Regions from separate parts of the Homo sapiens genome. Here region 1 is linked to region 2. The links come from fine-mapping of genetic effects on gene expression. A gene starts in region 2. The other region holds a variant in brackets. All regions are shown on one strand. Distances are between the middles of the regions. Region 1 overlaps CYSLTR2 (cysteinyl leukotriene receptor 2). Region 2 holds the start of CYSLTR2 (cysteinyl leukotriene receptor 2).

What was found.
Region 1: its variant is fine-mapped to the expression of CYSLTR2 in whole blood (TOPMed, PIP 0.93).

The regions. Positions count from the first base shown.
Region 1 is chr13:48,694,560-48,699,946 of GRCh38, reverse strand. It overlaps CYSLTR2 (cysteinyl leukotriene receptor 2), which reads right to left. Exons shown (of 5, transcript NM_001308476.3): 4 at 3,321-3,421. Among named protein-coding and RNA genes, the nearest start is that of CYSLTR2, 43 kb to the right of the region's middle. The variant C/T (reference allele first, on the strand shown) is at 2,436.
Region 2 is chr13:48,651,812-48,657,198 of GRCh38, reverse strand. It overlaps CYSLTR2 (cysteinyl leukotriene receptor 2), which reads right to left and starts at 3,270. Exons shown (of 5, transcript NM_001308476.3): 1 at 3,182-3,270.

The DNA.
Region 1 (5,387 bases), 43 kb before region 2:
TATGTGTCCAGGAATTTATCCATTTCTTCTAGATTTTCTAGTTTATTTGCTTAGAGGTGTGTATAGTATTCTCTGATGGTAGTTTGTATTTCTGTTGGATCAGTGGTGATATCCCCTTTATTATTTTTTATTGCATCTATTTGATTCTTCTCTCTTTTCTTCTTTATTAGTCTTGCTAGCAGTCTATCAATTTTGTTGATCTTTTCAAAAAGCCAGCTCCTGGATTCATTGATTTTTTTTAAGGGTTTTTGTGTCTCTATTTCCTTCAGTTTTACTTTGATCTTAGTTATTTCTTGCCTTCTGCTAGCTTTTGAATGTGTTTGCTCTTGCATCTCTAGTTCTTTTAATTGTGATGTTAGGGTGTAAATTTTAGATCTTTCCTGCCTTCTCTTGTGTGCATTTAGTGCTATAAATTTCCCTCTACACACTGCTTTAAATTGTCCCAGAGATTCTGGTGTGTTGTGTCTTTGCTCTCATTGGTTTCAAAGAACATCTTTATTTCTGCCTTCATTTTGTTATGTACCCAGTAGTCATTCAGGAACAGATTGTTCAGTTTCCACGTAGTTGCGAAGTTTTGAGTAAGTTTAACCCTGAATTCTAGTTTGATTGCACTGTGGTCTGAGAGACAGTTTGTTATAATTTCTGTTCTTTTATATTTGCTGAGGAGTGCTTTACTTCCAACTATGTGGTAAACTTTGGAATAAGTGTGATGTGGTGCTGAGAAGAATGTATATTCTGTTGACTTGGGGTGGAGAGTTCTGTAGATGTCTATTAGGTTCACTTTGCGCAGAGCTGAGTTCAACTCCTGGATATCCTGGTTAACTTTCTGTCTTGTTGATCTGTCTAATGTTGACAGTGGGGTGTTAAAGTCTCCCATTATTATTGTGTGGGAGTCTAAGTCTCTTTGTAGGTCTCTAAGGACTTGCTTTATGAATCTGGGTGCTCCTGTATTGGGTGCATATATATTTAGGATAGTTAGCTCTTCTTGTTGAGTCGATCCCTTTACCATTATGTAGCAGCCTTCTTTGTCTCTTTTGATCTTTGTTGGTTTAAAGTCTGCTTTATCAGAGACTAGGATTGCAACCCCTGCTTTTTTTTGTTTTCCATTTGCTTGGTAGATCTTCCTCCATCCCTTTATTTTGAGCCTATGTGTGTTTCTGCATGTGAGGTGGGTCTCCTGAATACAGCACGCTGATGGGTCTTGACTCTTTATCTGATTTGCCAGTCTGTGTCTTTTAATTAGAGCACTTAGCCCATTTACATTTGAGGTTAATATTGTTATGTGTGAATTTGATCTTGTTATTATGATGTTAGCTGGTTATTTTGCTTGTTAGTTGATGCAGTTTCTTCCTAGCATTGATGGTCTTTACAATTTGGCATGTTTTTGCAGTGGCTGGAACTGGTTGTTCCTTTCCATGTTTAGTGCTTCCTTCAGGAGCTCTTGTAAGGCAGGCTTGGTGGTGACAAAATCTCTCAGCATTTGCTTGTCTGTAAAGGATTTTATTTCTCCTTCACTTATGAAGCTTAGTTTGGCTGGATATGAAATTCTGGGTTGAAAATTCTTTTCTTTAAGAATGTTGAAAATTGGCCCCCACTCTCTTCTGGCTTGTAGAGTTTCTGCCAAGGGATCTGCTGTTAGTCTGATGGGCTTCCCTTTGTGGGTAACCCTACCTTTCTCTCTGGGTGCCTTTAACATTTTTTCCTTCATTTCAACTTTGGTGAATCTGACAATTATGTGTCTTGGAGTTGCTCTTCTCGAGGAGTATCTTAGTGGTGTTCTCTGTATTTCCTGAATTTCAATGTTGGCCTGCCTCGCTAGGTTGGGGAAGTTCTCCTGGATAATATCCTGAAGAGTGTTTTCCAACTTGGTTCCATTCTCCCCGTCACTTGCAGGTACACCAATCAGACGTAGTTTTGGTCTTTTCACATAGTCCTCCCATATTTCTTGGAGGCTTTTTTCATTTCTTTTTACTTTTTTCTCTCTATGCTTCTCTTCTTGCTTCATTTCACTCATTTGATCTTAAATCACTGATAACCTTTCTTCCACTTGATCAAATCAGCTACTGAAGCTTGTGCATGCGTCACATAGTTCTTGTGCTGTGGTTTTCAGCTCCATCAGGTCATTTAAGGACTTCTCTACACAGTTTATTCTAGTTAGCTATTTGTCTAATCTTTTTTCAAGGTTTTTAGCTTCTTTGTGATGGGTTAGAACATCCTCCTTTAACTTGGAGAAGTTTGTTATTACCAATGGTCTAAAGCCTTCTTCTCTCAACTCTTCAAAGTCATTCTCCGTCCAGCTTTGTTCCGTTGCTGGCAAGGAGCTGCATTCCTTTGGAGGAGAAGAGGCGCTCTGATTTTTAGAATTTTCAGCTTTTCTGCTCTGGTTTCTCCCCATCTTTGTGGTTTTATCTACCTTTGGTCTTTTATGATGGTGA[C/T]GTACAGATGGGGTATTGGTGTGGATGTCCTTTCTGTTTGTTAGTTTTCCTTCTAACAGTCAGGACCCTCAGCTGCAGGTCTGTTGGAATTTGCTGGAGGTCCACTCCAGACCCTGTTTGCCTGAGTATCACCAGTGGAAGCGGCAGAACAGCAAATATAGAAGAACGGCAAATGTTGCTGCCTGATCCTTCCTCTGGAAGCTTCATCTCAGAGGGTCACCCAGCTGTATGAGGTGTCAGTCGGCCCCTACTGGGAGGTTTTTCCCAGTTAGGCTACTCGGGGGTCAGGGACCCACTTGAGGAGGCAGTCTGTCCATTCTCAGATCTCAAACTCCGTGCTGGGAGAAGTACTACTCTCTTCAAAGCTGTCAGACAGGGACGTTTAAGTCTGCAGAAGTTTCTGCTGCCTTTTGTTCAGCTATGCCCTGCCCCCAGAGGTGGAGTCTACAAAGGCAGACAGGCCTCCTTGAGCTGTGGTGGGCTCCACCCAGTTAGAGCTTCCCAACTGCTTTGTTTACCTACTCAAGCCTCAGCAATGGTGGATGCCCCTCCCCAAGCCTGGCTGCCACCTTGCAGTTCAATCTCAGACTGTTATGCTAGCAGTGAGCGAGGCTCCGTGGGCGTGGGACCCTCCGAGCCGGGCGTGGGACCCTCCGAGCCATGTGCGGGATATAATCTCCTGGTGTGCCGTTTGCTAAGGCAGTTGGAAAAGCACAGTATTAGGGTGGGAGTGTCCCAATTTTCCAGGTACCATCTGTCATGGCTTCCCTTTGCTAGGAAAGGGAATTCCCTGACCCCTTGTGCTTCCTGGGTGACGCGATGCTCCGCCCTGCTCCATGGGCTGCACCCACTGTCTGACAAGCCCCAGTGAGATGAACCCAGTACCTCAGTTGGAAATGCAGAAATCACCCGTCTTCCACGTTGCTCACACTGGGATCTGCAGATTGGAGCTCTTCCTATTCAGCCATCTTGGAACCTAGTTTTCCCTAGAATGTAAAATTATAAAATTTTTAGGAAAAAAATTTTTGGGATCTAGGACTGACAAAGAGTTCTTAGAATTGACACCAAAAACATGATCCATAAAAGAAAAAATTGATAAATTGGAGCTTGTCAAGATGATAAATTTTTGCTCCACAAAATACTCTGCTAAGAGGATGAAAATACAAGCTACAGACTGGGAGAGAATATTTGCAAATCACTTATCAAAACAGGGTTATTTAGAATATATAAAGAACTCTTGAATATCAACAGTAAAACAAGCAAACAAATGAAAAACTCCAATTAGAAAATGTGCAAAAGATAGAAACAAACATTTCAGGGGATATACAGATAGCATATAAGCACATAAAAAATTGTTCAACATTGTTGGTCATTAGGGAAATGCAAATTAAAACCACAGTGAGGTATTACTACATACTTATTAGAATGGCTAAATAAAACATAGCGACTACATCAAATACAGAGAAACTGGATCACTCAGACATTGCTGGTGAGAGTGTAAAATGATACGGTCATTCTGGAAAACAATTTGGCTGTTTCCTAAAAAACTATACATGCAACTACCATGCATTCCAGTAATTATACTCCTGGGCATTTATCCCAGGGAAATGAAAACATATGGTTACATAAAAACCTATAAGTCAGTGATTACTGCAGTTTTATTTGTAATAGCCCCAAACTGGAAATAACTCAGATAGCCTTCAATAGTTAAACAGTGGTACATGCATACCATGGAATTCTGCTCAGCAATGAAAGGAGTGAACCATTAATACATTTGGTAACTTGAATAAATCTCTAGGGAGCTATGCTATGTGAAAATAAAAACTAATCATACAGAGTGATCCCATTTATATAACATCCTTGAATGACAAAATTATAGAAATGGAGAACACAGATTTGTAATTGCCGGGGATTAAGAATGTGGTGGGGGTTGGAGGGAAGTAGAGGTAGCTAAAGAGTGGAGTTTGAGGCATCCTTATGGTGACAAAAATGTTCTACATCATAACTGTATTAATGTCAATATTTGGGCTGTGCAGGAGTTTGAGATGAGCCTAGGCAACATAGTGAGACCTGAGACCCTATCTCTATGAGAGAGAGAGAGAGAAAGAGAGAGAGAGAGAAAGAAAGAAAGAAAGAATAAAGAGAAAGGAAAAAGAAAGGGAAAGAAAGAGAAAAAAGAGAAAGAAAAGAAAAAGAGAGAGAAAGAAAGAAGAAAGAGAAGAAGGAAAGAAGGAAAAAAAGAAAAGGAAAAAAAAAGAAAATGAAAAAGATTAGCTGGGCGTGGTGGCGCATGCCTGTAGTCCCAGCTCCTCAGGAGGCTGAGATGAGAGGATCATTTGAACCCAGGAGATCAAGGCTGAAGTGAACTGTGATCACACAGTTGCACTCCAGCCTGGGTGATGGAGTGAGACTCTGACAAAAAAAAAAAAAAAAAAAAAAAAAATGCCAGGTTCTGATATACCATGGTCTTGCAAGATGTTACCATTGCGGGAAGGGGTACAAGAGATTTTTCTATTTTTTTTTTACATGTGCATGGGAATTTTTAATTATCTCCAAATGGAGGGGAAAAAAAGGTGTGGCTTGAACAGAATACCCTGCAATTTTGATTGCAAAATTCCATCTACAAACTGCTCAGTGGTGCTTGTGTTTAGGAAAACACTTAGGTTTTCACTTAGGGAAGCTCCCCTTCCTCTCCATTCCCCCACAACCTACCTATGCTGTCTCTGTACACCTGAAGAGGTGATCCCCAGGAAGATGACAGAAGGCTTTCAAAAGCCTTGTTGCAATTAGTAATAAAGCCAACTTGTTCCATTACAGGAGGGTTTCTGGTGGTCTTGGGCTCTGAAGGATTGACAAAAATGGAGTTTCACAAGATTCTTCAAAAGTCCTTGCTGCCTTAAGCAAGTACCCTTGACTCAGTAATGATGCATACATGTGGGACCCTGTTCATGG
Region 2 (5,387 bases):
CTCCATGGGTCAATTAATATAAAGAGGTTAATAAAGTTCAACAGAGATAAACATTAGCTGTAACTAATAAAGTCTGCATTCATTGGGTGAATTGATTTATTTACACAATGCCTTTATTCTCAATGGAGTTTATGTGCTAGGTTCTATGCAATGACTCCAATGTCAGAGTCTTGGTCCAATAGAACATACTGTACATAAGTAACTGCAGTACAAAGGAGGCAGTGGCCAATACCCTGAGAAATAAAGAAATACAGTGCTAGGGGTTTCTGACATGGATTTCAAAAAGCTCTCTAGCAACGCTGAGCACCCACAGCAAAATGCTTGCCTTTCTTTGTATTATCCAATTTGGCTGCCGCATTAGCCAGAGTTCATTGGGTAATTGCACAATCCCTTGTGAGGCTTTTATCTTAAAGGCTTACCCTTGGGGAACTAGAGTGCCTCAGATATCTGGTGCACAGAGCAAACTATAGAAAAGCAGAAAGGATCTTTGATTCTGGAGTACACAGGAAATGCTAACGATGCCCAAGGTAACCATCATGTACTCATGTACACAGCAATGAGTACACTGAAAAAATATATCATCTTTCCTCCAAAATGGAGGCTGCTCATGTGATCCCAGGTGGATAGGAGGCAGAGTGATATAATGAATGAAAGCATGTGCTTTTGAGTTAAAAGGGACCTGGGTTTAAGTTTCAACTCTGCCTTTTAGTCTCTTTTATTACTGCAGCCGTCTGAGCTTCAAACTCTCATCTGCCAAAGGAGCACTGGAGTGAGTATTGATGAAAAAAAAATGGATGTTAAGTGATTAACTTGGTGCCCAACACATGTGAAGAGTTCAGTCAGTACTAGCTAACAATCACAATAAGATTTGTGACAATAATGTACAAAACTCAGATAATTAAACAGGAGCCTTCTTTATGGTCAAGTGAAAGAAGATGGGGCCATTTCATCTGGAGAAGAGCCAACCAGAAACACATGAACAATTCTATTTATTTTTATTACACAAGTAGTACACATTCATGGTAAAAAAAAATTACAATGTAATACAAGCTGAAATAAACTTAAATAATGAACTTTACCACCAACCAGACATAGCTAAAATTTTGCATATATGGTTTTTTTATCTTTCTTGAAATATATACAAATATTTTTGAACAAAAATGAGCACACTTATAATGCTGTTTGTATCTTGCTTTTTTCTTATTTCGTGTCATGATCACCTTTCTTTGCCAACTAACAACATCAATGTCATCATTTAACTGGATACAGAATAGCCAATTATATAAACATTATGAAATTTGTTTAACCAATTTCCCACAATAGCTATTATTTAAGTTGTAAGAAAGGACCATGTGCCCTGGGCTCAACCAGATTGGACCAGTTCTGGTTCCACCTGGGAAAGATCCTATGTTCTCTTGGTCTCATCTTTACCATCTTTAAAATAAGAATTACATCCTCCAGTTCTTAAGGCTAGTATGTGGATCAAATGAACTGATGCCTGTAAACATGTTTTGTAAATAGTAAAGTACTATGTGAATGTTTACATTCATTAAAGAAGGTACTAAACAGGTGTTCTCCACTGAGTCAAAACAAGAAGAAATTAGATTAACATGCTGTTGGTCTCATTGGGATGATTCCTAGCCTGTAGCAGGCTGAGTGCAACAGCAAATGCTTCAGTGTGGTTTAGGCGCTGTGGCTCTGTTTTCAGTCCCTGATGGGAGAAACCAGAACGCAGCCCTGGCATAAACTCTATCCACTTTCCTCCTGAGGATATGAGGTCCAGAGAAGGTAAATGCCATGTCTATGTGGCTCCTGAAAGCCAGAGTGAGCCACCTTCTGCCTCCAAATCCAATCCCATCGATCTTCGCTGTGCCCACAGTGTGTTAGTGAACTGGCCAGCTATTAAATGCCCACCTTGTGTTTAATCTTGAAGAGTTTTAAAAGGAAGCCTGGCTGCCTTGGTAGATTCTAGCAGATATGGGCGTGATTCAGATACATTTAGAACACACTTGAGCCTCAACTTCTCTAACTTTTAACCACCGAAGCACTGGAAACAAATCCATCTCTTTAAAACATTAGTAAATCGAAACACAAGTAGATTCTTATCTCAAGAGTTTATGTGGCTGAGTAGATGATAGAAATTTCTAGAAGTCTTATGTTTCCCACAAATTATTTTATAATTTGCATTATTTATGTAGTGTTGAAAGGGAGATTTGGTTGGCTTGCCTTAAATTATACCTCCCTTTCTCCTAATACATATTACTCTCAGGTATATTTCAGAGACAGAAAAATATTTTGAATGACCTAGGTCATCTGTTTTTATGCTGACCACCCATTAGAACCACCTGAGAAGTTTCTGGAAAACAAGATAAAATACTGCAGATGACTCACTGATCTCCAAAAGTTAAGCTTCAGTTATTCTAGGGGTAATTTTCTAATCTCCTCAGAGTCGGGTGATTCTGGCCAGATGTGCAGCCAGGGTTGAGAAACACTGATTAGGGTCCCAGTGGGGTAAGGAACAGATTATATGCTCATGATCTCACATACTCTTTCATTCTCATTGTGCCTCTGAGCAAAACCATTGAAATATATGTGCTCAGATTTAACTTCTTCTACCCCTAAAACAAGACACTGAATGGAAAAAATATATCTTATATAATAGAAGGACCCAAACTATGAAAAAGAGGATAACAGCCAAAAATGGAGGAAGTATAGTAAAGTTCCTCAATGCAATAATATGCAGCAGCTTTAATTTATGATTACAAAGAATTCACAGCAACATGGAAAAACCATAGACTGATATGGAGGAAATGAATACAAACTTGTCCATAGTGTAGGGACGCAACTATGAAAACTAAAGTTATATGTGCATACACACACACACACACACACTCACACACACACACACACACACACACACACACACACACACACACACACACACACAAAGGGACGATCCCCAAAATATCAATAGAGGCTATTTTGGTGGAGAATTTGGCTTCTTTCAACATTTTTATACTTCCACAGTATTTTTTAAACTACCATGTACATGATAGGAAAATAACATTTATAGTAGAACAAAACAAATTTACTTTTAAAAAATTACTCCTCTGACTATTATGTGATCATCAAGTCATGATGCTCAACACTGAATTAACAAAACAAAGATTAAAATGCCCACCTGAAGGTCTCTGTCTTTCAGCTGCCCTGGCTTCTGCTGCCTCTATCTCTCCTGCCTTTCTCCTCCGAGTAATTCAGGTTGCTCATTTCAAAGAAAAGTGAAAGAGCAAATTATATTTATGAACAGTGCCAACCAATAGCAAGCAAGTCAGGAAGTGTAGCAGGTCATCTGTGCTTTTTAGAAGCCATTGTAGATGTTAGTGCAAGCTCCCTTCTCAAGAAGGGTGAAAATTTCCAGTTAGGGGCTATGTCTAAAAAGAAGAAACCTAAAATTGCCCTGCCCCTCTAATGACTGGTTTTTTGTCATTATCTTTCTCAAGAGATCAAGCGGATATGATGGGTTAGAGTCAGGAATTTTAAGTGGCTTTTAGTTCTCCTAAATGGTTTCTGTTTCCATGGCAACAGAAATAGCAACATTGCCTTACACACATAGCACTTTAGACTTTTTTAAAGCACTTCCCTCACTCACTTGCATTTTCAGCTCACTTGCACTCAGGCAGAGACCTTATCCAGTCTGCTGAAAATGTTCTGTCAGAGGTCACCAAAAACCTCCTTGTTGCTTACATAAAAAATCCTTTCTCAGTCCTCACCTTCCTTCCCCTCTTGTTTGCATAGTTGACCATTGCCACTTTCCTGAAACTTTTCCCTTTTTTCTCTGACTTTCCTGGTTCTTTTTCTACCCCTCAGATTGCTCTTCTTTGCCTCTCTTTCTGATGCCTCTTCTTCCACCCCTTTTCTACGTGTGAGCTTTCCCCAGAGGTCTGTGTTCTGACTTCTTCCCTCCTTCTCTTGCTTTTACCTATCTGATCCACAATCATGGCCAAATTTAATGTGGCCCAGGTGGAGCTTTTCTCTTCCTCTCTTAGTCCTGCATCCCCCCATCTACCCTGTCTAAGCAAATGGCACCACAATAATTTAGCCAGTTCATCCATCCATAAACCTAGAAGTCACTTTTAACTTCCCTCTTTCTTCCACCACCCACTTCTGAGCCAACAAGTTCCATTTGTTCTGCCCATAAAATATGTTCCAAATCGAACCATTACTCATCTCTCCATCACTGTTCAAATCCTCGTTTCCTGCATAGAAAGCTGCAGTAACATTAAGCAAGAAAAATAAGTAAAAGGGATCCAAATTGGAAATAAATAAGTAAAATTTTGTCTGTTTGCAAATGATAAAATCTTATATGTAGAAAAACCTGAAGATACCATGCACACACACACACACAAAACCCCAATAGAACTAATAAGCAAGCAAATTGAGCAAAGTTGCAGGACAGGAAATCAATACACAAAAATCAGTTGCATTTATATACACTAACAATAAACAATCCAAAAATGGAAACTAAGGAAACTATTCCATTTATAATAGCATCAAAATGAATAAAATACTTTGGATATATACTCAGTAGTAAGGTTACTGAATCTTGTTGAGATCTCTGCACTCTCATGTTTACTGTAGCACTATTCACAATAGCCAAAATATGGATCACCCGAAATGTTCATCAACAGAAAGATGGATGAAAAATGTGGTATATATTCACAATTGAATACTATTTACTGATTTAAAAAGAACAAAATTTGTCATTTGTGGCAACATGGATGAGCTTGGGAGACATTATGTTAAGTGAACTAAGCCAGGCATAGAAAGATAAATACTGCATGTTCTCACTCACATGTGGAAGCTAAAAAATTTGATCCTATAGAAGTGGAGAGTAGAATAGTGGTTACTAGGGGCTGGGAAGAGTACTTTCTAGGGGTGAGGGTGAGTGGTTTTCTGTGCAGCTTCTTCATGCAGCTGTGGAGAAGGGGCTGGGACCAAGGTTGCTCCTCTGAAGACAAGGTTCTTCCTGGGTCTGGGATTCTATTTCTAGTATTTTATTTATCCCAATTAGAACTCACAGTACACAAATGTTATATTACCATTCTCATCTTTAGGGGGCAAAAAGCTTGAAACAACATTTCATTCTACAAGCAGTCACTATAGATATTCATTCTTCTCCAATAAAAGCCCAATTGGCCAGGCGCAGTGACCTCACGCCTGTAATCCCAGCACTTTGGGAGGCCAAAGTGGGCAGATCACGAGGTCGGGAGTTGGAGACCAGCCTAGCCAATATGGTGAAACCCTGTCTCTACTAAAAATACAAAAATTAGCCAGGCATGGTGGCACGCGCCAGTAGTCCCAGCTACTTGGGAGGCTGAGGCAGGAAA